Linked DNA regions of Homo sapiens: regions 1, 3, 4 and 5 are each linked to region 2. Evidence: fine-mapped expression QTL. A gene starts in region 2. Each other region holds a variant in brackets. All regions are shown on one strand. Distances are from middle to middle.

The links. PIP is the estimated chance that this variant, and not a neighbour inherited with it, causes the effect.
Region 1: its variant is fine-mapped to the expression of CPVL in whole blood (INTERVAL, PIP 0.96).
Region 3: its variant is fine-mapped to the expression of CPVL in hypothalamus (GTEx, PIP above 0.99).
Region 4: its variant is fine-mapped to the expression of CPVL in thyroid (GTEx, PIP above 0.99).
Region 5: its variant is fine-mapped to the expression of CPVL in nucleus accumbens (GTEx, PIP 0.99).

What each region holds. Positions count from the first base shown.
Region 1 is chr7:29,112,679-29,117,785 of GRCh38, reverse strand. It overlaps CPVL (carboxypeptidase vitellogenic like), which reads left to right. Exons shown (of 13, transcript NM_031311.5): 3 at 4,964-5,082. Among named protein-coding and RNA genes, the nearest start is that of CPVL, 31 kb to the left of the region's middle. The variant G/C (reference allele first, on the strand shown) is at 3,170.
Region 2 is chr7:29,143,330-29,148,429 of GRCh38, reverse strand. It overlaps CPVL (carboxypeptidase vitellogenic like), which reads left to right and starts at 1,893. Exons shown (of 13, transcript NM_031311.5): 1 at 1,893-2,001. It also overlaps a transcript of CHN2 not described here.
Region 3 is chr7:29,306,484-29,311,590 of GRCh38, reverse strand. The region is part of intron 1 of CHN2 (chimerin 2); the gene reads right to left. Among named protein-coding and RNA genes, the nearest start is that of CHN2-AS1, 100 kb to the right of the region's middle. RefSeq lists an enhancer at 1,191-1,759. The variant C/A (reference allele first, on the strand shown) is at 2,329.
Region 4 is chr7:29,060,959-29,066,065 of GRCh38, reverse strand. It overlaps CPVL (carboxypeptidase vitellogenic like), which reads left to right. Exons shown (of 13, transcript NM_031311.5): 10 at 1-43; 11 at 1,832-2,005. Among named protein-coding and RNA genes, the nearest start is that of CPVL-AS1, 17 kb to the left of the region's middle. The variant G/A (reference allele first, on the strand shown) is at 2,253.
Region 5 is chr7:29,175,852-29,180,958 of GRCh38, reverse strand. It overlaps a transcript of CPVL not described here and a transcript of CHN2 not described here. Among named protein-coding and RNA genes, the nearest start is that of CHN2, 16 kb to the left of the region's middle. The variant C/A (reference allele first, on the strand shown) is at 2,416.

The sequences.
Region 1 (5,107 bases), 31 kb after region 2:
GCTTTACATCCATTAGCTCATGTAGTTCTCAGAGCAACCCTAATGAAGAATCCATAAGCATTGTTCCCATTTTACAAATGAGAACACTGAGGCCCGGAGAAATCAAATATCTTGCCTAGGGCCATAAAACTAGTAAGTGGCAGAGCTTGAATTAAAACCTATACTGGCCAACCCCAGGGCCCATGGTATGAACCACTATGCTATATGAGCAGCTCTGAATTAAACCCTATACTGGCCAACCCCAGAGCCCATGATATGAACCACTATGCTGTATGACCAGCTCTGGACTTCAGAGTGTCGGGTAAGATTTACGTAAATAGCGAAAGGTCTGTGCGTACCAAATGAGAGAAACAGCTTAAACAAAGGCATTAAGTGAAAGTGACCATGGTGTTTCTGTATCATACATCTGGTGGAACCAAGTAAAAAGAATACAGAGAAATCCATCTGAGAGACTACTGACATCTCTCCTGTTCTTGTCTTTCTTGCCTATGAGCATTTCTCAGTTATGGGTATTAGCAGCAGCCAAGAAAGATTCCAAGGGAGGTAGTTTTATCTTCCACCCTCCCATGTCAAGATTGGTAGATCTTCATCTGATGATTGACAACATTTAAAATATTAAATCTGTGTATAATATCACTTCCTGAAGTTATGTTACACAGTCAAATTCTTTGAACAGAATTTTAAGTGGCTGATTCAAAATCTGGTACATCTGGGTATTCAAATGTAGCCCTGACAACATAATTAAGGATAATTTTATTCATCCGCTTTGCTGAAAGTTCAGGAAGCTCTGGACAGATGGTCAGCTCACTCCCCTAAATCCCTTTTGTTTATCGAGTCTGTCAAAACCCTAGGAACGTGAGTCTTATTATTGCAATGGAACATTTTCGAGATAAACAGTAGCTCGCAAAAAAACAAGGGAAATTTTTAATTTTTAAATCCTCATTTAGCTGGCTTAGTTTTATGTAATTGTAATTGCATGTTTACTTTCTCTGAAGCTAGAATAAATCTTTACTCCCTGAAACAAAATGAAGTAGGAGGCACATTTTAGCTTGTTTATAAACACTGCATTTTCACACTTTAAAGACTATTTTACTGGTAGGTCCTAATTTATTGTTACTTATGATCTGATAATGTCTGTCCACACTGGTGATAACTTGAGTGTTTGTGAATCTGGCATGCATGCTGATTAGCTGGTTCAAGCCCTTTGTTGGTCACATTCCAATGTTTTTGAAAGTGTTAATATCACAAACATTGGTTGCAGCAGTAAAAAACAAGGAGGAAGTAAAATCACTTCAAAGAAAACCTTTTCCTTTTTAAAACTGTTCTAAACATTTGTATTGTGAGTCATGGTGCTGGAAAGATAGAAACTCCTCCATCTTGGGAGTTTGTTTTCCACATTCCATTAATAGAAGGATGCACAGGACATTTGAAAATATAAAAAGTCATTTTAGTTGATGACATTTTAAATTATTTTACTGGGATTTAGTTAGTGGAAATTTAAAATTTGAAACAGGGCAAAACTTTTTTTATGGGCTAGAGAAAAGTTCTAAATTTCTTAAGATCTTTTAGCAAGGTCTGCCTTAGGAGGTTTTTGTAGAAATAAGCCAATCTTGGTGCCTTGTCAGTAGGGCTTGTTTTAGTTCATTCATTTATTGACTTGTTCATCCATTCATTTGTTAACATTCATTCATTAAAAAGTATTTATTGAATGTCTTAGGTGTGTAAGTCAGCATGCCGAGTCCCAAGGTATGCAAAGTTAAATAACACAAATTCCCCACTTTCCAACCTCCTGACCTAGGAGGGAAGGTCTGAAACATACTCAAGTAAAAGGTAGTAGAGAAGCTACTTTGGCATCCTCAGGAAGGGAGGGATGAGTGAACATCTGAATCATTTGAGAGCAGTCTGTGGACCCTGTGTGGTGCTGGTCTTGGGAGAGATAGATTGATTGAATCATCCTTTCCTCTGTTCCATTCCCTCCAGCTCCTTTCTATTATATATTTTCTCTTTTTCTCATTATACTTTGACCTTTCTCATTTTTGTGTTGTCTTTCTCAAATCCTCTTCTTCCCATTTACCTCTCTGTGGTCCACATCTCACTCATTTCCAATCCACAGTTTTTACTTCTCTACTCTCCTTTTTTTTTTTGGGAGGCAGGGGGTGGTATCTGTTTGATTTTGAGAAGATTAATAGTTTTGCTAAAAATATTTCAAAAGCATTTTAAAGGCTGCCCAGCCCTGGGGGGTGATCTTTCTCTGGGCTAATTAAGAGTGGAAGTGAAGAAAGGGAGAAGAAAAACGACAGATGGCGGGAAGAGTGGGAGGGGAGGAGTGGCAAAAACCACTTTCCCCAAACACCTCCCTTTTCTTTCTCATAAGATCCTCACCTCTCTCTCTTTTTCTCTGGCTTTTTTTCTGATGGAGGAGGGATAGACCTCATTGGGAACAGAATGTGAAGACCAACAGAGGTTGCATTAAGCAATCTTCCCTGGGAGAACCAGGCTGAGCCAGAAAAAGGAAATTCTTCTAGACTTCACTTGGAGTGGCCAAAGGCTAATGATAACTTTCCCTTCCAATTGACTGAACCCATATTTTATGTGCAGTGCTAGGCTAAGGGTTCATATGCATTTTTGTTGTTTGATCCTCACAGAAAGCCCAGGATAGCGGAATCAGTATTTATATTTTGCATAAAAGGAAAGAGGCTCAGAGAGATGGAGCAACTTGCTGGGGAGTCCTAATCTAGTTAGGATTCCAAACCCAGGTCTGTCAGGCTAGGAAACCCATGCTCTTCTATTGTGCTAGCCTAACAGGACCCTCAAGGACCACCTGTTGAGACCTTTCTTTTGTCCCCATGACCTCCTCTGCTCAGAGGTGCTCCCTGTTCCTAGTCAGCAGGTGCATTTCACAGACAGCAACAGTAGTTCTGCTCCCTACCTGCCAGCTTCTTTATATAGATTTTACATGTGGGGGCTCTTTTAATCCAGGTGGCCCACAGGCAGTACATCTTCCATAGAGGAGAAACTGAAGAACAGGGAGGTTAAATGCCTGTATGGTGGGTCACCAGCTGGTCTATAGGAGCACTAGGATCAGCAAAGGAACTGTGTGGTCTAGATGAGAGGTTTTCCTTTTGAGAGGCATGCCTATATATATGTTTTTTTTTTGAGACAGGGTCTC[G/C]CTGTGTTATCCAGGCTGGAGTGCAGTGGCATGATCATGGCTCACTGCAGCCTTGACCTCCTGGGCTCAAGTGATCCTCCCACCTCAGCCTCCCGAGTTGCTGGGACTACAAGCACTGCCACCATGCTCAGCTAAGAGGCATGCCACTACTTCCCTTCCCACTCCTTGCCACCTGCACCTTCTGACTCACTCTAGTTGAAAGCCCTGGGGGAAGGAACAAACTCTGCAGCCTGACTGCTGTGTTTAATCCCAGCTCTCCTCTACTAGCTGGCAAGTCACTTAACCTCTCTGTGCTTCAGCTTTCTTATCTGTAAAGTGGGAATGAGAACTATACTTCCCACATCATGTAAAGCCCTGGTATTCTGGCCTTGTAAAATAGGAACTAGTGGTCCCAAAACAGCAGTGTGCTGGTAAAAGTTTAGCAACCAGCCCTTGCAGTCAGGACCCTGACTTGTAGCATCTATTCCCTTGAGTGTTAATATTGTCACCTTGGCTTATTTTATCCTGTCAATGTCTCTGAATGCTGAGCTGGGAAAAGATGCTAACAATTAGCCTTCCAGAGCCTAAGGGCTCCACCTACCGTCAAAGGCATCTTTAGTCGATGGCATGTGAGGAGTCAAGCTTCCTGACCTACTAGCCAGTCTCCAACTTAATATGGCTCAGACTTACATCGCTTTTCTTGAGTGACTGGTTCCTACTGGGGACACATTCTTTGTCACCACTAAAGGATTCTTCTTCACCCAAACTTTCCCTTTTACTTCGCCACCACATTCTGCTGTTTTCTGTTCCTTTGCCACTCCCTTCCTGACCACTACTTCCCTTCCCACTCCTTGCCACCTGCACCTTCTGACTCACTCTAGTTGAAAGCCCTGGGGGAAGGAACAAACTCTGCAGCCTGACTGCTGTGTTTAATCCCAGCTCTCCTCTACTAGCTGGCAAGTCACTTAACCTCTCTGTGCTTCAGCTTTCTTATCTGTAAAGTGGGAATGAGAATTATACTTCCCACATCATGTAAAGCCCTGGTATTCTGGCCTTGTAAATGTCAGCTCCTAGTAGCATTCTTTACTCCTGGGCATCCTTGGCTGTCTAAGCATCCCCAATTACTCCTTCCCTGTGCCTGTCCCAATGGTGCCATAAGAACGCCAGGACCCCTGGCCCCCACAACTGCCCCATTGTCCTATTTGGCTCCCCCTGAGTAGCCATGAGGTCACTCCCAGTCTCCCCACTGTCCACCACTGTCCACCTTTCCCCAATGTCCACAGCCACCCACACTCCCATATGCCTCAGCCCACTCCTCTTAGTAGATGTGACAGGCTTTTTGCCTTCATGAAAACAAGAGCGTGAAGGACACAGGCCTTCTCGGGGCGAGGCCGAGAGCTGCTTCACCACATTGTTACTCTTGCACCCCACTGTTTCAGGTCAGGTTACTTTATCCTGCTCCTTTCCATGTGGCCCAAGGTGATCACCTTGGTTTATGCAAGGTGTAATGATAGGAGATTTTCTTTTCTTCTTTTTAAAAGAACTTAAAAAAAACCTTATTACAGCTTATAAAATATATTTGGGCACCCCTCCCCAAAGGCTTAAAACTTTCACATATCCTTGGCTAAATTGTGAACGTGGACTATGTGGGATTGGCCAGGGGCAGGCTGGAATTTGCTGAAGGAACTACCTGTCATACCAGTTCCCTTTTAGCTTATCTAATCACTCCATTTCATCCAGACTGAGATAGATGGCTCACATTTTTGTTGTTATTGTTTTCTGTAATCCTTGGGTAAATTTTTTTTCCCCCACTAGGAAGAGAATTGAGTTTGGTCGGCCCTTTCCCAGGACTGAACATGAAGAGTTATGCCGGCTTCCTCACCGTGAATAAGACTTACAACAGCAACCTCTTCTTCTGGTTCTTCCCAGCTCAGGTAGGTGCCCAACAGAAAGAACACC
Region 2 (5,100 bases):
AATGGTGTTCTTATAAGTTGCAGCATTTATAGCCTTGAGGTTACTAAAACTGCAGGAAGACTTTTGGGACACCCTGTTTTTGAATAAATATGCTTACAGCATGGCTCCTCCTGTGTTTACTGTAAAATTCAGTTTAGTTTTTAAGTGGTTCCACGTGGGCACAGGTATTCTTTGGCCAGTAGTTGTCCTTATACTTAGACCCAAGGAGCCCTTGTCCAGGGCCCACACTTTAGAAGGCAAATTCCAAATTCCCTCCCCAAATGGCACTGAGCCTGCTTCAAGGGTCTGCACGCCAGCAGCAGTGTTATCTGCTAATGTCTGTACTCCCATGGGCGAACATTGCTGACTCTGGTGTTCATACTCTTGTGCCCAAGAGGTGGCTGGGGGACAGCTGCTTCTGGGAAGCTTGACCGAGCTTCCACCAATGGACTAGAGCCCTGTGGGAAGAGAGGAGGTGGCTGCAAACCAGGAACTGGAAATCGCCTCTCCCTGCACCATCATATTTAAGTGCAGATCATCCAAAGTTTCAATCTGGCCTTTCATGTCAATTCCCAAGGTATATTTGTCTAGGTAGGAAGGTAGAACTTATTGTACTTAATCATTTGTTAACTTTGTTTATAACTTTTAAATATTTAGGTATCTGGCCTACAGATCTCTGTTTGTACTTTTGCCCTGGGTCCTGCATATATTAAAGGTGGGCTGATTTTGGCCTTAAAAGAATTATTTTCCCACAAACAGATTTTTCTCCTTAAAGAGCTAGGTGGGTAGGAAGTACTTCCATATGGAAGGTATGATAGCAAAGAATGACTGCAGTCACTGAGCACATACTTTGTGCTGGGTGATTTACACATAGTTTTTCAGTGAGTCCTCACAACAACCCAATAAAGTAGGTACTTAGGAGAAAACAGATATTCAGTGACATTAGTTTGTTCCAGCTCGTAAAACTAGTGCTTTAGTTAGCCTTAGTTGCATAACAAACTACGCGAAACTGAAAGTGGCTTAAAACAATTTTTCCCCCTGACTGTCGGGTTGGCTGGGCTGCTCTACTGCGGGTTTCCCTGGGCTCACTCCTGCAGCTAGCTGTGAGGAGATGGAGGTTGGCCCGGGACAGTGCAGAAGATTCCCCGTGGCCTCTCCCACCTGTCTGGCAGTTGACGCTGCTGTTGCTGATAATGATGACCCTCCTTTATTTTGTGTTATCTACTTGCCATTGCAACCTCCTTGCCTTTTTTAGTTCTTGCTCCCGTACTGTCTGGCTCGATGCCCAGCACCTGGTGGTGGCTAATAATATACACTCAGGTCACTTACAAGCAATGTGACCCTGGATGGGTTACTTAACCTCACTTAGTTTGTGTCCCCCAATTGCAAAATGGGTATAATGGTACAGAACACATCAGGTGGCTCTGAGACTCCAGCGCAGTGATTCAGGAGAGTGCTTGGCAGGACAGTGGCACTTGGTGCGAGCTTACTGCTAGTGCAGCTGGAATGTAGACCATCAGCGAACGTGTGTTGCCTTTTTAAACAGTGGGAATCAAACACCACTCGCTTTCCAAATGTAAATCCTGGGCTTGCAAGTAAGTCCTAGAGTGCAGAAATAATTTCAAAATACAGGGTTGAAATTTTAAGATAGCAGCTTTTAAAAACTGGGAGACAAAATCAAAATAAAACAAAGGGACAAACCAACCTGAATGGCACCCCGCCGATGCTCTTCATTAATTTTTAAGATTCCACCCTGGGGCTGCTTGCTTCTTCCAGCATGGGAAGCGCTGACTTGATGCGGCCAGGTTTCTGGGACCAGGAGGTTGGGACACGACGACGCACTTTTTGCCCTGTGGGTCTGGGTCATGTGAGCCTAGAGGAGCGCTTAAAGGCTCGAGTTCTGCAGGGTCCTCGTGACTGGGTGGGGCTGCCTCACTTCTGCCTGATTTGGGAAGCGCTGCAAGGACAACCGGCTGGGGTCCTTGCGCGCCGCGGCTCAGGGAGGAGCACCGACTGCGCCGCGTAAGTGCCGCCTGCCCTGCGTGGGTCGTGCCAGCTCAGCGGGACAGGTCCTCGCCTCGGTCCCTCGGACTTAGGGAGCGCGGGGCAGGTAGTCTCAAAAGCCCTCAGCACCAACAGGGGAGAAAGCACCGTAGAGTGAGACTGGAGTGGGGTGGTCGTGGCCGAGTCAAAGTTCAAATTGGAGCATTGGGGATGTACTGCGTGCGCCCAGCCGAGGGAATACTCTTGAAGTTTCCTGGCACAACTGTCGCACCCGGGGTTCTTCCAGGCTAGAAGCCGTCTCCTACTCCAGGAGCTCCTCCGGGGAAGTACGAAGCTGTGGGGTCCTCTGCCGCTCTTAGCGCGGGAGGGTGGCGGGTGCAGGACACTTTCCCTTACTCCCTCAACGCGTGTTTTGGGGATGTGTTGATTTCGTGGGTGCTCAGAAGCAAGAGAAGCGGAAAATACCTTCTATTTTGAACGTGCCCAAAGCAGGGAAACTTGGCTTCTGCCTAGGAACGCATAGGAAGACTTTTATTCTTGGAATGTAGGATTAGCAGAAACCAAGGGCACAGGAGACAGGTGGAAGCAGCTCCCTGTGAAGTGATACAGAAACAAAAGGACTTTGGAATATTTGTGGATTTAAATCCCAGTTCTGGCCTTGGCTAGTGAGTGACCTCGGGCAAATTATTTAAGCCTACTAAACCTCAGTCTTTCCATCTGAAAGATGGAGATAATAAGTTTTTCTTTTTAAAGAATTGTTTTATTGGAAATAGAAATAACATACAGAAAATGCCTCCCTAGCACGGGACTTGGCTTTTCAGCTAAGTGTAATTTTCCTTATCAGTTATGATTGATGATGAAGTCTATGGTGAAGACAGAACAAAATAATGTTTAAAACTCTGGCCATATAATGACTGTGGCTATGCATGACCCGTGTGCAGTCACCTCTGAGCCCCCCACCTTCACTGCAACCCCAGTGGGTCCCAAGCAAGGTGCTTGGGTTTTGGAGCTGGACAATTCTGTGCAATTCCTGGTTCCGGTATCCACTACTTGGATGACATCAGGGACGTAACTTATCTTCCACAGCCTCAGTTTTGGCATCAGTAAATGAAAAAGGAGCCCCTCAGTACTTGCCTTTCCCTTCCCCGGCTAAATGTACAACTCATTTTTTTTCCATTCTTTGCTTTGGGATGAGTAAGAACAAAGATGTAAGCAGAGTAAAAAGTCCATTGAGAATACATTTTATTAGCTTGGTAAATAACGTTTAAGAAAGTTGTCCAAAAGGAGAATTGGAGCACTTTTGGAAAAGTACACTGCACCGGCTTTGTTGGCATATGAAAGTCTGCATGGTCGTCAAGACCGTTTGGCTAACTGGGCATTCTAGATGTGTACCTCATGCTAGTCTAAGTACAGGGGCAACCCTTTATAATGTAGTGTCAGTGTTCTTAACCAGATGTTGTTTTATTAATCTTTTATAGGAGATGATTGTTTGGGAGGGGCAATTGATCCCCCAATTTATATAAATCCAGTTTATAAATCACTTTATAGTGGGATTCTACTAGCCTGAGAAATAGGTGGGTTTTGACTGACAGTTTGAATGACTTAGAAGAGTGTTAAGAAAGTCCACTGGGTTTACCAGTTCACTCCCCACAAAAAATAAAAACAAGAAGCAAATAATATAACAGAATTCTAAAAATGAGTTTGTTTTTGTTTTGGGAAGCATCTAGTTTGTCAGAGGAAACACTGAGTGTTGAATACTACCCTGGGATGCACAGAACTAAGGCAATGAGAGGGGAGGAACTCAGTTCTTGCCCCAGGTATCATCAGATATCTGTTTATTAGCACCCAAATACTCAAGGTAAATAGTAATGACCCATTCTTTCTTTTTTTGAGACAAGAGTCTCACTTTGTCACCCAAGCTGGAGTGGCACCATCTCTGCTCACTGCAACCTCCATCTCCCGGGTTCAAGGGATTCTTGTGCCTCAGCCTCCTGAGTAGCTGGAATTACAGGTGTACACCACCATGCCCGGCTAATTTTTGTATCTTTGGTAGAGATGGGGTTTTGCCATGTTGCCCAGGCTGGTCTCGAACTCCTGACCTCAAGTGATCCTCCCACCTCGGCCTTCCAAAGTGCTGGGATTACAGGCATGAGCCACTGTGCCTGGCCAGTGACCCCTTCTTAATAGGAAGTATGGTTCACTAAAGAGCAAACATGATTGTTTTAGTTTACCATTTCCGATGGCTTTATAATGTGAGATTTTCATTGACTGAACTAAGAACATTTAAAAGAAGTAGGCAAGCTTCTCAGAATTAGAAAGATACCTCTAGAACAATGACTCATTAACGTCTATATTGACTTGTGAGAGAGGTAAGCTGGGCAAAAAGCTAAGAACTGTACTTTCCTGGTAAAAACAGTAGTGGAGTTTGAACTTTTATACTATATTTGCAAGCTCAAAGATGTAAGCCTTAATAGACAGTTCACAAGACAGCTGTTACAGCGTATCTGAACTGAAACCAGGGTATTGAGATTGCTCTCCCTTAAGAGATATTAGAGGTATAACCTTGAACATGAAATCACATGCTTTCATTGCTTTAACTCAGACCCTGGGGTGCAGGACAGGGTGGTGGTAGTGAAAGAGGGGGAAGGACTGTGTCCTTAGATCTTGGAGCCTGAAAAAGCAAATTCTTAGCAGCTTATCTTTCCAATATAGTTGGAACTTACCTCCTACCTTTTTCTCTCTAGTCTGATTCTAGTTATTGGTTGTCTTTAAATTGCTTAGAATTGTTTACAGGCCAAAATATTTACTTTGAACCCTAAAGGTAAGCTCTTCCTCCTTTCCTTTTTGGGACTCTGTATCCCATTACCCCTCTTTCAAAAAGATAGTGCCACATATCTTTTTGTACTGTATGATTCTTGGGAGAGAATGTAACCCAGGTCCCAAGCGATTCATTTTCTCATTTATTTATTCATTTAACTAATTTTTTCCCAGTGTTTGATTATGAAAAGGTTTAAACTTTCAGAAAAGTCAAAAGAATTTTGCAATCTAGAATCTACCTAGATTCTATTATTGATTAGAAGCCAGGGTATTGATTTCAATTGATTAATCAACTGGCAT
Region 3 (5,107 bases), 160 kb before region 2:
TGCCTGTGTTTGAACCTGAATCTTATTAGTCCCTATCTGTGATGTCTTTGCAAGTTGCTTAGCCTCTTTGTGCCTCAGTTTTCTCATCCGTGAAGTGGGGCTATGATCCTCACAGGGATACAGCCAGGATACGGGAGAAATATAAAGTACCTGGCACAAAGTAAGTGTCAGGAAGCGCAGTAGAGATTAAAAGGTTCTGTGAGAGGATTCAGAACAAAGAGTGAGGCATAAAGAAGGATCAGTTCTGGAGACAAAAGTGGGGACTGCCAGGAAAGACTCCAAGAGAACACGTGGCCCTTGAACCTCTTAAGATGGATCACATTTGCCAGGTTGTCGGTGACAGGAAGGACAATGGAACGGTGTAAGTGAAAGCCAGGAGGCAGGGAGTCCCATCAACAGGTGACAAAGGCAGGGGCAGGGAGAATATGATGGAGGGACTGGATACAAGAGATGCTAACAAGGCTGAATCTACAATGAATCTACAAGGCTCGGAGACTTATTAAGTGTGCAGTAGGAAGGGAAAACATCTGTACTGAGGACAGACAGAAAAGCAGGTTATGGGGCTTTTTAAATTGCACATTAATGACTTGTTTTGTTGTTTAAGAATTCTTTCAATAGTTTTCTTTTTAATAAACAAGTAATTATTTGGAGAATTTAGTCAATGTCATAAACTGAATGCTTGCATCCCCCTAAAATTCTTATGTTGAAATCCTAACCTCCAATGTGATGGTGTCAGAAGGAGGGGCTTTTGGGAGATGATTAGGTCATGAGGGTGGAGCCCCCAGAAATGGGATTAGTGCCATCTAGAAGAGACTCTGGAGAACCACCTTCCTCCTCCCACCATGTGAGGACACAGTGAGGACACAGGCCCTGTTTATGAATCAGGAAATGGGTTTTCACCAGACACCAAACCTGTAAGAAACAAATTTCTGTTGTTTATAAGCCACCCACTCTGTGATGTTTTTGTTATAGCAGCCCAAATGAACTAAGACAGTCATCTAATTTTTAAAATACCATTTTAGAATTTTATATCACCTTTCAAAACAAATATGTATTAAATACAGAAAATTTGGGAACTACCGTTGGGCACTAAGAATAAAACAACAATCACTCATAATCCCATTTACTGAACTAAGCATCCCGTTTCAATCTTTATATTTTCCATTGTTTATATTTGTATACATTTTAATTGCAAATACAGGATCATATGGTACCCACTGTTTTGCAGCTTGATTTTTAAAAATTAAACATGAATGTGATTATATTCATTCAATATTCTTCTACATGTTCAATTTTAATGGCTTCAAGTATTCCACTCTATGGATGTATCATAATTTATTTTTATCTCCTCCCTTATGTGAATGTATAAGTTGTTTCCAGTTTTTTTTCTATTACTGAACATTCCTGTTGATACATCTTTGTCCACATACTTGATTTTAGTGTTCATTTTAATGTATTTTATCCGTGTAACCATGTTGAAGTAAGGGAAAGTAAGTTAAATGTAGTTTATTGTACTCTTCACAAGAATTAATCCAGCCACAGCTTCTTGGTCCCCCCACCTAGGAAATGCCATGTGCCTGCCCCATGAGAGACAGAACAAGGTGGGAGAGGCCCATTTGAGGCAGGGAGTCCTGCCTGGCCAGTGCTTCCAGGGTACAGGCACTTGGGCCCCTTCAGCAGCATTCCCCAGACCCTAGACAACCTGGATCCATGTAACAGCCACAGCAGGGCCCATGAGCCCGCGAGGTCTCCACCCTCACCTGCAGGAGATGAGGCAGCAACCAGCCTGCGTGGCAAAGTGGCCCAGCACCTCCCTTGGAGCCCTACTCAGAAAATGGGAGGAGAAGCACATTTGGTGGCAAGGCCAGAACCTATTCCCATCAGCTCCTTGATCTTCGTGAATCAACAGAAGAAAACACAAACTCCCGAAGTTACGCAACTGGATTTGATTATGCATCATTTATTTCCTTGGGTTAGGCATTCCACTTCTCAGACTGCCACATGCCACTAGCTCATGCTAAGCCAGAAAGGACAATGACAATGGGAAAGAAAAGGAGAAGCAAAATTAGAAAACTCCTTCATCTGAGGTGGCATGCTCCCACCACCGGGGGCCACTGTGAATATATTAATAGGAACAGGTGGTAGGAGGAGAGGAGCCAAATGCTTTGTCCTCTATGAGTGGAGAAGGGAAGGGTGGGGGAAGAGTTAGGATGGTATCTGAAAGGGTCTACACTTTCTCAGAAATACAAGAGCAGAATTAATCAACCCAAATAAGGAGAGCACTGCTACTCTCAGGCTGCTCATCTGGAAGACTGGACTCAAATTCTA[C/A]AACCCAAAGAGCGGTGACTTTCCAAACACTTTTTGAACCGTAGGCCAAAGTCCTTTATTTCTAAAAACAAAAACAAAAACAAAAAAAAAGCTTTTGGCTGCTTCTTGAAATTTATTCTTGTAAAAGACTATGACCTATTTATTCTGTCCTTGCTATAATAGTGGATACCCTCTAGACAAGGTCTATGCTTTCCATTCATTCACTTGTTGGGTCATTCATTCATCATCCATTCATCACATACTAATAAACTATTCTTGGTGGGTAATCTACTCTGTGCAAGATGTTGCATTGCCAGGTTTGTGCACATAGTAGTGAGCAAAACAGACATGTTCCTATCCTCACACCCTTCTGGTCTTGGAGAGGAACACAATTAACAAAGAAGCCAAAAAATTATTGAGTATAAAGTGCAATGGAGGAACTAAATAAGGTGTTTTCATAGAGGCTAATGAGACAGATCTGCTTAGCACGGTTATAAGAGGCATCTCTGAGGAAGGGCAGAACAGGGCTATTATCCACCCAACTACTGAATTTTCCTCCTGGGCACACAGGAAGACTACATGCCCAGCCCTTCACATCCAGGTGAGGCCATATGGAATGTGGCCCAGGTGATGTTCATTCCAGGCCCAGCCCACACAATCCTCCACGCATTCCTTGCTCCTCAGCAGGTGACTGCAGAGATCCTGCTAAGGATTCCGAGAAGGCACCGGGGGAAAGAGAGGTCACAAGCTGGAATGGTTGGTGGCTGTGTGGAACAAAGCAGAATCCCAATTCCTATCCCAACACACACACACACACACACCCCAACCACCTTGCACTGTGACGTGAGGGACACGTGCTTTATTGTTTTAAACCACTAGGATATTGGGTTGTAAGTGATAGCACTTAGACTCTTCTGACTAACAGAGGAGGAAGGGTTAAGCTAAGGCCTAAAAGATGGGAAGAAGCCGGTTCTTGGAAGATCTGGAATAAGGGTATTCAAGGCAGAGGAAACAGCATGAGCCAAGGGCCCACGGCAGGAAGTCTGAGGAATGGAAAGACAGCTGGAGGAGTGGGAGCTGAGAGAGTGCAGCGTAACATAAGGTAAGGCTGGAAAGACAGGAAGGAGAGAAAAAGCAGGAGCTTGTAGACAACAATTAGAGTTTGGATTTATTCTACATTCTCCATACTTTTCCAACTCCTTTGACACAGTTATTTGTATGCCGAGATACCCAGTAGACACTATTAGCTGATTTATTTAAAATGACCAAAAATCCAGAAAGATGCAGTGCTAAATGCATTAGTTTTCTACTGCTGCTTTAATAGATTAGCACAAACTCAGTGGCTTAAAAAAACAAGAATTTAATATCTTGAATTATGGAAGTCAAAAATTCAAAATAGGTCTCATTAGGCTCAAATCAAGGTGTTTTCTGGGCTGGGTTCTTTCTGAGCAACATCACCTGGGCCACATTCCACATGGCCCCAATTGGATGTGAAGGGCTGGGCATGCAGACTTCCTGTGTGCCCAGGAGGCAAATTCAACAGCTGGGTGGAGACGCTAAGGAAGAATCTATTTTGTCCACCTTCCTTGACTCCTGGTCCCTTCCTCTCTTTTTCAAAACCCAGCAGCAGAGCATCCTTCAATGACTCTCTGACTCTCACACTCTACTTTGCCTTAAATGGGCTCTTGTGATTACACTTGGCCCACTCGGATAATCCAGGGTAATTTGCCCATCTCAATCAAGGTCACCTGGTTAGCAATCTTACTTCATCTGAAATCTTAATTCCCACTTGACATGTAACAACATATTCACAGGGTCCAGACATTAGAACAGAGACATGTTTGCAGGGACCATTATTCGGTTCACCACAGTAGGAATACCATTACTTGTAAATTGATGTTGACTAATCATACTCACCAACCTTGTAACTCATAGACTCCTTTTATTCTTTCCCTTCAAACTGGATGATTTGAAAGATCTGATCTCCAAAACAAACTGAACTTATTATGTAGTTACTGATAGATAATTATTCCATTAGCTTTTTTATTAGGCTTTTAAAAATGTATAAAAGAGGCTGCAGACCCCTCAAAACATCTGAAGTGATTGTAAGTTGGGAACCATTAGATTTACAGACAACTGAGCTTCTCAAATCTCAGTTCCCTTGGTCTGGTTAAATGATTTAGCTGAAGGCGAATCAGCGAACACTGATAGGATATATCCAGGCACATCTCTTTCCTGCTGTCCCCAAAATGAGAGATTACGGATGTCCTCTTGAAAATGTCACCATAAGAAAATCATACTCTTAAGAGGAAGGAGGCTTGGACGTTACTAGTCACATCTTTAACGCTGAGAGCTAATTATTCCACATGCTTCACACCACTGGATGGAAACACTCATTATTGTGTTAGAGGACAGGAATCTGGCAATTCTGCAGAATGCAAATCACCCAAAGCCATTCCACTCAAGCTGGCCTGATTAAGTTTGCTGTCAGCCCTCAAGGATGCTAACAAAGCTACTGGGACAGGAGGGAGTTCACGGCAATTCTTACATACTGATTACACTGGATTAAGTGATTTGCTACATTTAAATAATAAACAATACACTTGAAAAATCACCTTGAACACAAGATTCCCTGGACATTTGTTCCTGGGGATGAATGTGTCACAGGGCAAGGATATAACAGTTCATTCAGCATGTGCTCTATCGCCTTGGGCTTTAACACCCAGGGTCCCCCTTTCCTGCCACAGCCCCTCCTCTCAGTTTATACTCATCTTCTGACCAATCAGCACTCTCTTAAGTG
Region 4 (5,107 bases), 82 kb after region 2:
TGTTACAGGATGTAGTAATTACTATAACTTTTTGCGGTGCACGGTAATGACATTTTAAAAACCATAATAATGTTTGCTTAAAACTTTTGGCAAAACCGAACTTCCTTTGATTTGGGAAATATTATAGATGACTTTATACTAGACCAACATGTCCAAACTGTACCGCGTGATGTGGTCTACTAACCCATAGAATCTTTTCCTCATCAGTGTTGTATACGTTATAATCTGACCACTGAGAATGTGTGATATTTCAGATAACTCAAAACAACTTCTGATGAACATGATTTCCCCCAAGTAGAGCTTGTTATAGAGGCACTTTTGTGAAGGACACAGGCTGGGATTGGAGTTCTGGGTCTCAGGTCCCAGAGCTTCAAGTCTGTTTACGAGTCTCTTGAAAATGCCCACATTCTTTGTTCTGTACTTAAGACGCTTGGATAATCAAAACTGCCAAAGCCTTAATGAAAATATTTGCTTTGTCTTACTTTTAAGATGTTTAATGCATTTAGTATGGCCCTCACTTCAAGCCTTCTGGAATATTTCTCAAAGTATTCAAGTAGTTTGTTTCATAAAAGTAGGCCAAAGTTGATATCTTTTGTGTAGAATTAGTCAAACAGAAGGAGCCAAAGTAGGTGTTTGAATTTGTATAATCTTTGTCTAATGCTTATGACAATGCATTCTGTTTTTAAAATTGCCTGATTTATGAACTAGTTTGTAAATAAAGTATAACGTTAGTTTCAGTGGAATTCGCCAATGCTGCAGTTTTGGATTTAGATTCTACTAAGAGAAAAACATGTGGTAGACAAGACAGAAACAAAATTTGTGATGATACCTTTTTTTCTTTACAACAATATATTCACAGTTAGTAAAAATTGTTGATGAAGCACAAAGTTGTCAAACTCAAACTTTAACAGTTTTTTTAATCCTTGTGTAACTGTTTTTTTTTTAAAGCATTTACTCCTTTCTTTCAGTATAATGATTATTACAGAGACTTTATTGCAGTTTTTTTTTTAATAAGCTTCATGGACAACTTTTCTTCTGTCTTGTGTCCTTCATAAAGTATCATCTCTTTTCACATTTGACATATTTTCCCCTTTATTATAGTCAATCCAATTTTGTGTGTGTGTGCGGTTTTTTTTATTTTTTAATTTTATTATTATTATACTTTAAGTTTTAGGGTACATGTGCACAACGTGCAGGTTTGTTACATATGTATACACATGGACACAGGATGGGGAACATCACACACCGGGGACTGTTGTGGGGTGGGGGTAGGGGGGAGGGATAGCATTAGGAGATATACCTGATGCTAAATGACGAGTTAATAAGTGCAGCACACCAACATGGCACATGTATACATGTGTGTGGTTTTAATAAACAGCAGAACACAGAAAAGAAATTCTTAGCTTTAAATCCAGCACACCACCAACCTGGCCCTTGTGATCCATTTGACCTTCTTTCCAAAGAGCCACCAACAAGGAGTGAATTGATTTTGATAATCTCATCTCTTTTGTTTTCTCTCTCTTTGCCTCTAGTGGGGTTGCTAATGGGAGTCACAGATTGCAAAAGATTAGTTTCTGCAAAGGAAAATCCTGTATTTGCAAATTGGGTATTTTAAGAGTATTTTAAGGGTATTTCAGATTTCTAATTAGTAAAAAGATTCCACCTAAATTATCTCAAAACCTCCGAGTTAAAATTTCAAGAATGGCGACAAGTTAATAGTCCCGTCACGTTTCTCCATGTTGTATGTTATGAGAAATTCACAGCTTTTCCCAACATACTGTTCCTGCCACCAATCATGTTCCCTATGTCTTTCCAATGCCCCTTCTGCCAGGAACCTGAGGATCAGCTTTACTATGTGAAATTTTTGTCACTCCCAGAGGTGAGACAAGCCATCCACGTGGGGAATCAGACTTTTAATGATGGAACTATAGTTGAAAAGTACTTGCGAGAAGATACAGTACAGTCAGTTAAGCCATGGTTAACTGAAATCATGAATAATTATAAGGTAAGAGAGCTACTTCAGTTACTATTTTAGGAACTTTCAGATTACCCAGAGCAGAAGTGATTTGTAATTTGAGTCCTGCCTTTTTTTTTTTTTTAACTTTTATGATGTGTCATTAGCATAAATAACAGCCCCTTTCTTTGTTTGATTCCAATTCAAAGTTTTATATTGTTCCTTTTAATTTAACCACTTTTGCCGTTGTGGTGACTTATACCTGTAATCCCAGTGCTTTGGGAGCCTGAGGCGGGTG[G/A]ATCACCTGAGGTCAAGATTTTGAGACCAGCCTGGCCAACATGGTGAAACCTTCTCTCTACTAAAAAATACAAAAACTAGCTGGACATGGTGGCGGGTGCCTGTAATCCCAGCTACTTGGGAGGTTGAGGCGTGAGAATCACTTGAACCCGGGAGGCAGAGGTTGCAGTGAGCCAAGATCGCAACATTGCACTCCAGCCTGGGCAACAGAGCAAAAACTCTGTCTCAAAAAAATAAAAATAAAATAAAATAATTTAACCACTTTCCCCTGATTATTCCTTAAAATGAAATTCCCTTTGGCACACACCACTTCTCATCCTTTCTTGAGAAAGGAAGAGTTGCAGAGCCAAAAAGATGACTGGCCGTGTGTAAGAGCCAGATTTCTCTTATGTGTTGCTTTGTTACATGAATCCCAATGACGTCAGGGATAAATGAAATCAACTGGTTATTCTGAAAATGCATTTTGCCTAATGGTTGTATTCATTCACTTTACCCAATCACAGTGTTTTGAGTCTCTCCTTAGGGTGTGAGGTTGAAATGATGAATGAGAAAGGGTCCCTGTTTGGAAGTAGGTCAAGTCAAGCCATTGTGCTGTCTGGTTGAAATGCTCTGCCTTTGCTGCCAGTGGAGGTGCCAGTGGAGAGTGAGGTCACAGAAAAGGAGCCCTGGAGGTTCAGGCAAAGAAGACATGGGCCCTGGAACTCCCACTGGGAAGGAGGACACCAAGAGCAAATGACATGGGGAAAGTCAGCCTGTGTATTATTTCTTTCCTGGTACTACGCTCTCAGCTCCTCCTCTGGTCCTCCAGTGCTGTTAGCCTTTGCCCAAGGGATCGTCTCTAGGGCAACTCCGAAGGATGCCTGTACTGATGACTGGGGAGACCACCACTGAGTGATCCACTTCCTCCCTATATCCTGTTTTGAATGAACAAAAAACAGGGCAGTCGGCAGCCCATAGGATTTTTGTATGAATTAGAATAAAGGCATCCTCTCCTCAAGATACTTTATTTCGATCTTTCAGAAATTGTCCTGATATACTGCCTTAGTTAAAACCAGACTCTTTACTGCCATTTGCTGGCATGCTGAATATTCATTTCTACAATGTGTATATTAGGAATGGTGTGTCTTAGGATTGTTCAGTGCACAATCTGCAATACTATCCAGGCAGTCCCTGGCCAATGCACCCTAACTAGACTGTGGTTTAGAATATGCCAGACCTAGGAGGCCCATTTCTGGGTCCTGCTTCTAGTACAGTGTTGGACACGTAACCATTGTTGAAAATAGTTTAAGACCAATTATATGCCAAGTCTACAAACCCATTATAAACCTGCAAAACTTGATGAAATACTTACTTTCTTGGAAAGAAAGAGTCTAACTAGGTCAGGCCAGCATTTCAGCCATCCTTGTGTTTGGTTTTCTTGGGGACATGTAGTGGCCCTTAGTGCTTGCTGCTTCAAGACTTCTCAGAGGACCTCCAGAAGGCACTGCTGTTTGTCCTCTCCTCTGAGCTCTCAGAACGCGTTGTCTTTACCCCCATAGGTGTACATGGCACACTCTAACGTGCAGACTCTCAGTCTGACACCCATACCACCACCAGCCTGGAGCAGATGTCAGGAATGAATGAATGATTAGTGCTGTATCAAAAATATATCTATAAACCTGTCCATAATCCATTAGGTGCTTATTATCCACAAATTTATTAAACCAAAAAGAGGTTAGCGTTCATGTCTTAAAGATGATGTTCTGTAATGTGATGTTAAGGAATGGAACGAGTGAATTTTTTTGAGAGGAGAGCAGATAAGTTTGATATGTGTTATTTGTGCCCTTGGGAGATATATTTTCTCACTGTACACACTTTTTTTTTTTTTTTTTGAGATAGAGTTTTGCTCTTGTTGCCCAGCTGTAGTGCAATGGTGCGACTGGCTCACTGCAACCTCCACCTCCTGGGTTCAAGCAATTCTCCTGCCTCAGCCTCTCAAGTAGCTGGGATTATAGGCATGTGCCACCATGCCCAGCTAATTTTGTATTTTTAATAGAGATGAGTTTTCTCCGTGTTGGTCAGATTGGTCTCAAACTTCTGACCTCAGGTGATCCGCCCACCTCGGCCTCCCAAAGTGCTAGGATTGCAGGCATGAACCACCGCACCTGGCCTCACTGTACAAATTTAACTAGAATATGATTCCTTTCTCAGCCATGTGAGGGTAAGGTGGGACAAACAGCTTACCTGATGACATAAACTCTCCTTATGTTTTGACTGATAAAGGAGAATATATTGATTAGAGGTGATCCTGCATTTTGATATTTAAACTTCTCTGTCCCTCTTGCCCATGTATCCTAAACTTACCACTATGAATTCCAATAAAATCAAAATCCAGTATTTTCTAAACTTTTCTTTTCTTTTTTGAGACAGAGTTTCACTCTGTTGCTCAGGCTGGAATGCAGTGGCACGATCTCGGCTCACTGCAACCTCCACATCCCGGGTTCAAGTGATTCTCCTGCCTCAGCCTCCTGAGTAGCTGAGATTACAGGCACATGCCACCATGCCTGGCTAATTTTTTTTCCGTATTTTTAGTAGAGACAGGGTTTCACCATGTTGCCCAGGCTGATTTCAAACTCCTGACCTCAGGTGATCCACCCGCCTCGGCCTCCCAAAGTGCTGGGATTACAGGTGTGAGCCACCGTGTCTGGCATAAACTTTTCAACTCTGAATCGGTTGCCAGAAAAAGAAAAGAGTTTAGTGGTATAGATAAACCATATTTCCATAAAGAAACAGAACAAAATATGCCACCAAAAAGTGGCTGCTGCTAAAACAGACAGCATGTTCACTCACGCAGCTGGCAAAGCGCTTGGGATAGTG
Region 5 (5,107 bases), 33 kb before region 2:
GTACTGGGTACCAGTGATTGGTACCAAGAGTTGTTTATGTATGATCTTACGTACTCTTTTCAATTACACTGCAAGCAGTCATGCTTATTATCTCCATATTACAAATTAGAACTCCAAGAGGTATACGGATGATACGAGTCTTGTCCAACATCACACAGAATGTGACAGGGCCTGGATTTGAACCCAGCTCTAACTCCAGAGCCTGAGCTCTTAATCACTGGACTCTAGTGCCCCTTAATTAGTGTGTTAGTGTTCTTCTTATTAGTTTGTAATAACTCTTTACATAGTAATTATAATAACTTTTAATTGGTCAAATTTGTGCCAAAGGTATTTTTATTGGCTCATCATTTGCCTTAATTTGATTTATACAGATTTAAGTCATTTTTATATCAATTTAGATGACTTTTTTTTTTTTGAGATGGAGTCTTGCTCTGTTGCTCTGTCGCTCTGTCGCTCTGTCGCCCAGTGCAGTGGCGCGATCTCGGCTCACTGCAACCTCCGCCTCCTAGGTTCAAGTGATTCTCCTGCCTCAGCCTCCTGAGTAGCTGGGACTACAGGCATGTGCCACCACGCCTGGCTAATTTTTTGTATTTTTAGTAGAGATAGGGTTTCACCGTGTTAGTCAGGACGGTCTCAATCTGTCCTGACCTTGTGATCTGCCCGCCTCAGCTTCCCAAAGTGCTGGGATTACAGGCGTGAGCCACCACACCCGGCCTAGATGTCACTATTGGTACGTTATCACATTTTAAAAATATTCTAAATTTGATTCACAATATTATTAAAATGTTTGATGTGAAATATTTTCCTTTCTAATAAAAAAACTATTGGGGAACAGATTGACTTCGGAATATTAAGAATGAAACACATGTAAGCATAATATGTGAATATTTGGAAATGAAATAACCTACATCATTGATGAAAGGACATCTTATTTCTCATTGATATTTCCACTGTCTGCAGGGAAATATAATCATTTGAAAATACAAGACAAATAGCAAAAGATCAATAGAATGCTTAGCAATGTAAGTTATCTTAATGCTTTCAAAATAACAGTGACCAGATTTTTTGTTTGTAATACTTAAGTTGATTTGCTTGCAATAATAAATAAATCCTCACATGCACTAACTCAGTTTTGCAAAGCATAAGAAAACAAATGAACCTCATAAATGCTATATAGCCCCTCCACAAATGTCCAGTTCTTACCCGTGTTTTGCATTGATATAAAATAGAATAGCTATTAAGTATTTTGTAATTTGAGAAATAAAAAACCTGGTAATTATTGATGGTTTCTCTACTTAGAAAAAGGAGAATATTTATTTACATATATCAGAGTAATTCTATTTGGCAAAGGATATATAGCAAAATAATCATTTGTGTTACTAACATCTGCCTTGTTCTTGCTTATGAAGAAGACTTAGGACAAGTATCAGAATCTTTCCTTCTCACTCCTGAAGAATTTGTGTTGAGTCTGGGTTCCTGGATTTTCTAGCATCTGAGAGTGGTCAAAAAATTCTCAGACTGCAAAACTTCAGCCTGAGTTTCTGTGCAGAGCATTCTGGAGTCTTTTCTTCAACAAGGCTGACTGAAGAAGGCTGACACTGTGTGGGAAGGAAGGCAGAACTGATCTAGCAAAGAGTGAAGGGAGCACTCTTCCTCATGACTTGGCGTGGGATGGGGTGGTTCTTAAGGATGGCATCCCATGCCCACTCTCATGCAGTGCTGTGTGAGGGGATGGAGCCTTCTGAAGGGTTCTCCCAAGATGGCAGCATGGCCTAACACAAATAAGCCTTATGCCCAAGCTTGGCAAAAAGAAAATGGAGGGGCTGTTTTCAAAGGGTCCATGAGGACTGTAAGTGTGTCAGCATGATATTGGAGGATCACCTCCTGTTTTCTGACACCAAGAGAGATGCTGGGTCCCCTATAATCCTAAGGAGGCAGGAGACCTCAAAACCATAACTGAGGAGGTGCAAATGCTGGTTAGCTCTGGTAGGTGGGGTCCTGCCTGGACTATAATGTCCCTTAAATGGTGTGTTAGTGTTCTTTTTATTAGTTTGTAATAACTCTTTACATAGTAGTTAACCTTTGATTGGTCAAATTTGTGGCAAACCCATTTTTATTGGCTGATTATTTGCCTTAATTTGATATATCATAGGGATTTAAGTCATTTTTCATATGAATGCAGATGGCTAATTCCACTCCAAGTTGTGAAATTAATTAATTAATGCCAAACAGTCATTCAACAAACAATAACTGAGCCCCTACTATGATCCAGGCATAGGTATAGACCCTGAGAATATAACAATAAACAAAGTCCCTGCCCTTAAGAGGCACAGACAATGAACTGCTTTTTTTAAAAAGATAACTTCAAATGCTGAAAAATGTGTTCAGATGAACATAAAACAGCATGTCAGGCAA[C/A]GTCTCTCGGAGGATGTGACATTTCAGCAGAGACTTGATCTTGCAGGTCTGGAGGAGGGAACAGCAGATTTAAAGGGCTGAGTCAGACACGAGCTGGGCATGTTAGAGGAACAGGAAAGGCGGCCAGTGGAGCTGGCGTCAAAGGAATGAAACCGCACGCAGAGGAAGACCAGGTCAGAGGCTGAGTAGATGTCAGATCCTAGCAGCCACGTGGGTCATAGTGGAGACTTTCTGTTTATTTCTAGACACAATGGGAAGCCACAGAAGCTTTTAGGAAGGGGATAACATGTTCTGATTCATACTGAAAAGATCACTTTGGCAGCTATGGAAAAGGATAGTAAGAAGAGCAGGGTGCACGGTGGCTATGTGACTATTCCAGTGGTTTCAAAGAAAGGCTGATGGTGTGGACAGAGGATAGTAGCAGTGGAGATGGCAAGACACCATCAGACTTAGGGTAGAATCTGACAACACTTGCTGATGATGGAATGTGAGGCATGAGATAAACAATCATCAAGGTGACTCCTAGGTTTTTAGCTGAGCAGTTAAATGGCTGGTGGTGCCACTTGCTGTGATGGTGAGGGCTTGGGGAGGGGGAACTTTGTGTGGGGATGGAACCGAGGGTTGTGTTTCGGACATGTGAAGTTTGAGGCACCTATGAAATGTCTAAGGAGATGTCAAGTAGCAAGGTTTGGAGAGAGGTCTGGGTTGGAAAAAAAGATTTTGGTTATAAAGTGAATGAATGAAAGAACAGATAGATAGGTGGGAGCATAATGAGATGGGTAGGTGTTTAGAAGTAAAGAGGGTTGGGGTATAGCTGGTAAAGTGGATGGATGGATGGATGACTGCACAGATGGATGGATGGACAGATAGATAAATAGGTAGATATTAATAGATGGACAGATAGATAAACAGATGGAAGAAGGAAAAGAGAGAGAGAAAAAATGAGGGGACAGAGGAAAAGCCAGTAAATTAAAAAAAAAAAAGTGAGGGGGCCAGGCACGGTGGGTCATGCCTGTAATCCCAGCACTGTGGGAGGCCAAGGCAGGCAGATGACTTGAGGTCAGGAGTTTGAGACCAGGCTGGCCAACATGGTGAAACCCCATCTCTACTAAAAATACAAAAATTAGCCCAGCATTGTGGTGTGCACCTGTAATCCCAGCTACTCAGGAGATTGCGGCAGGAGAATTGCTTGAACCCGGGAGGCAGAGGTTGCAGTGAGCAGAGATAGCACCACTGCACTCCAGCCTGGATGACAGAGTGAGACTCTGTCTCAAAACAAAACAAAACAAAACAAAACAAAACAAAATAAAACAAAAAAAGAAAGAAAAAAGAAAAAGATCTCCTATATAGGTATAAATTACTTTAAGCAATCTGAAGATTAGAAAGGAATAAGTTTCCCAGTGAGTAAATTTTTTAGTGTCTCTGTGCTAGAAGACAATGTTCACTAAACTAAAAATATTTTATCTTAAGGAGATAACTATTTTATATTTGCCTCTTCCATCTATATTTTTTCCCCTCTCTTTCTTGCTTTCTTTTGTATTAAATGATTTTTTTTCATTCCCATTTTCTCTGTATTTATTTGGAAGTTATAAACACTGTTTCTATTCATTTAGAAGTTAACCTAGGCATTTTAACATATAAGCTAACGAAGCCTAATGTTTATCCATATTCTTACCATTCTGACCAATGATGAAAGAGCAAGAGGTTGCTTTCCCTTTCCTTCCTGGCTTCCTATTTATATGCTCTTCCTTCTAGTATTTCAGCTCAATCTCGTTTTTTAAACACCAGAAGTTAGCCATTATTTGTTGTTTTATACTGTCAACGTTAATTTAGGTTTAAACAGAAGTTTCCCATTTTCTTGGCTCAAAATTCTTTCTTGTATATTAGATCTTCCTTCTGTATTCTTTTTTCTTCCTAAAAAATACCCTTTTAAAGCTTCTTTGTAAGGGTGTCTTAGTAGTAATCCCTTTCAATTTTTGTCTATAAATGTCTTTACTTTGTCTTTCCTTTGGAATCAAAGTTAGATTTGTATAGGATTCAAGCTGACAGTTAATTTCCTTCAGCAATTTGAAGAGACATACTGCTAATGAAGACATACCCATTGTGTTCTGACATGTTTTCCTGCCAATAAGAAGTCCACTATTAATCTAGTTATTATTTCTTTTTGGCATTTTTTTTTCTTTTTCCTCTCTGTTTGGGGGAATCTGAAGCTTTCCTACAGTGTATCTAAATGTGACTTTATTTTTATTTATCCTGCTCAGGACCTATTGGCCTTCTTGACTTCTCTTCTGGATCTTTGTAGTCAGAATAAATAAATAGTCATGGTCTTTTTTTTCTTTTATCTGTTTTTTTTTTCTTGAGACGGAGTCTTGCTCTGTCGCCTAGGCTGGAGTGCAGTGGCGCGATCTTGGCTCACTGTAAGCTCCGCCTCCCAGGTTCACACCATTCTCCTGCCTCAGCCTCCCGAGTAGCTGGGACTACAGGCGCCCACCACCACGCCTGGCTAATTTTTTGTATTTTTAGTAGAGACGGGGTTTCACCGTGTTAGTCAGGATGGTCTTGATCTCCTGACCTTGTGATCTTCCCGCCTCGGCCTCCCAAAGTGCTGGGATTACAGGCATGAGCCACCGCGCCCGTCTGGTCTTTTTTTCAATTATGGAAAATAGTCATGATCTCTTTGAATATTGCCTAA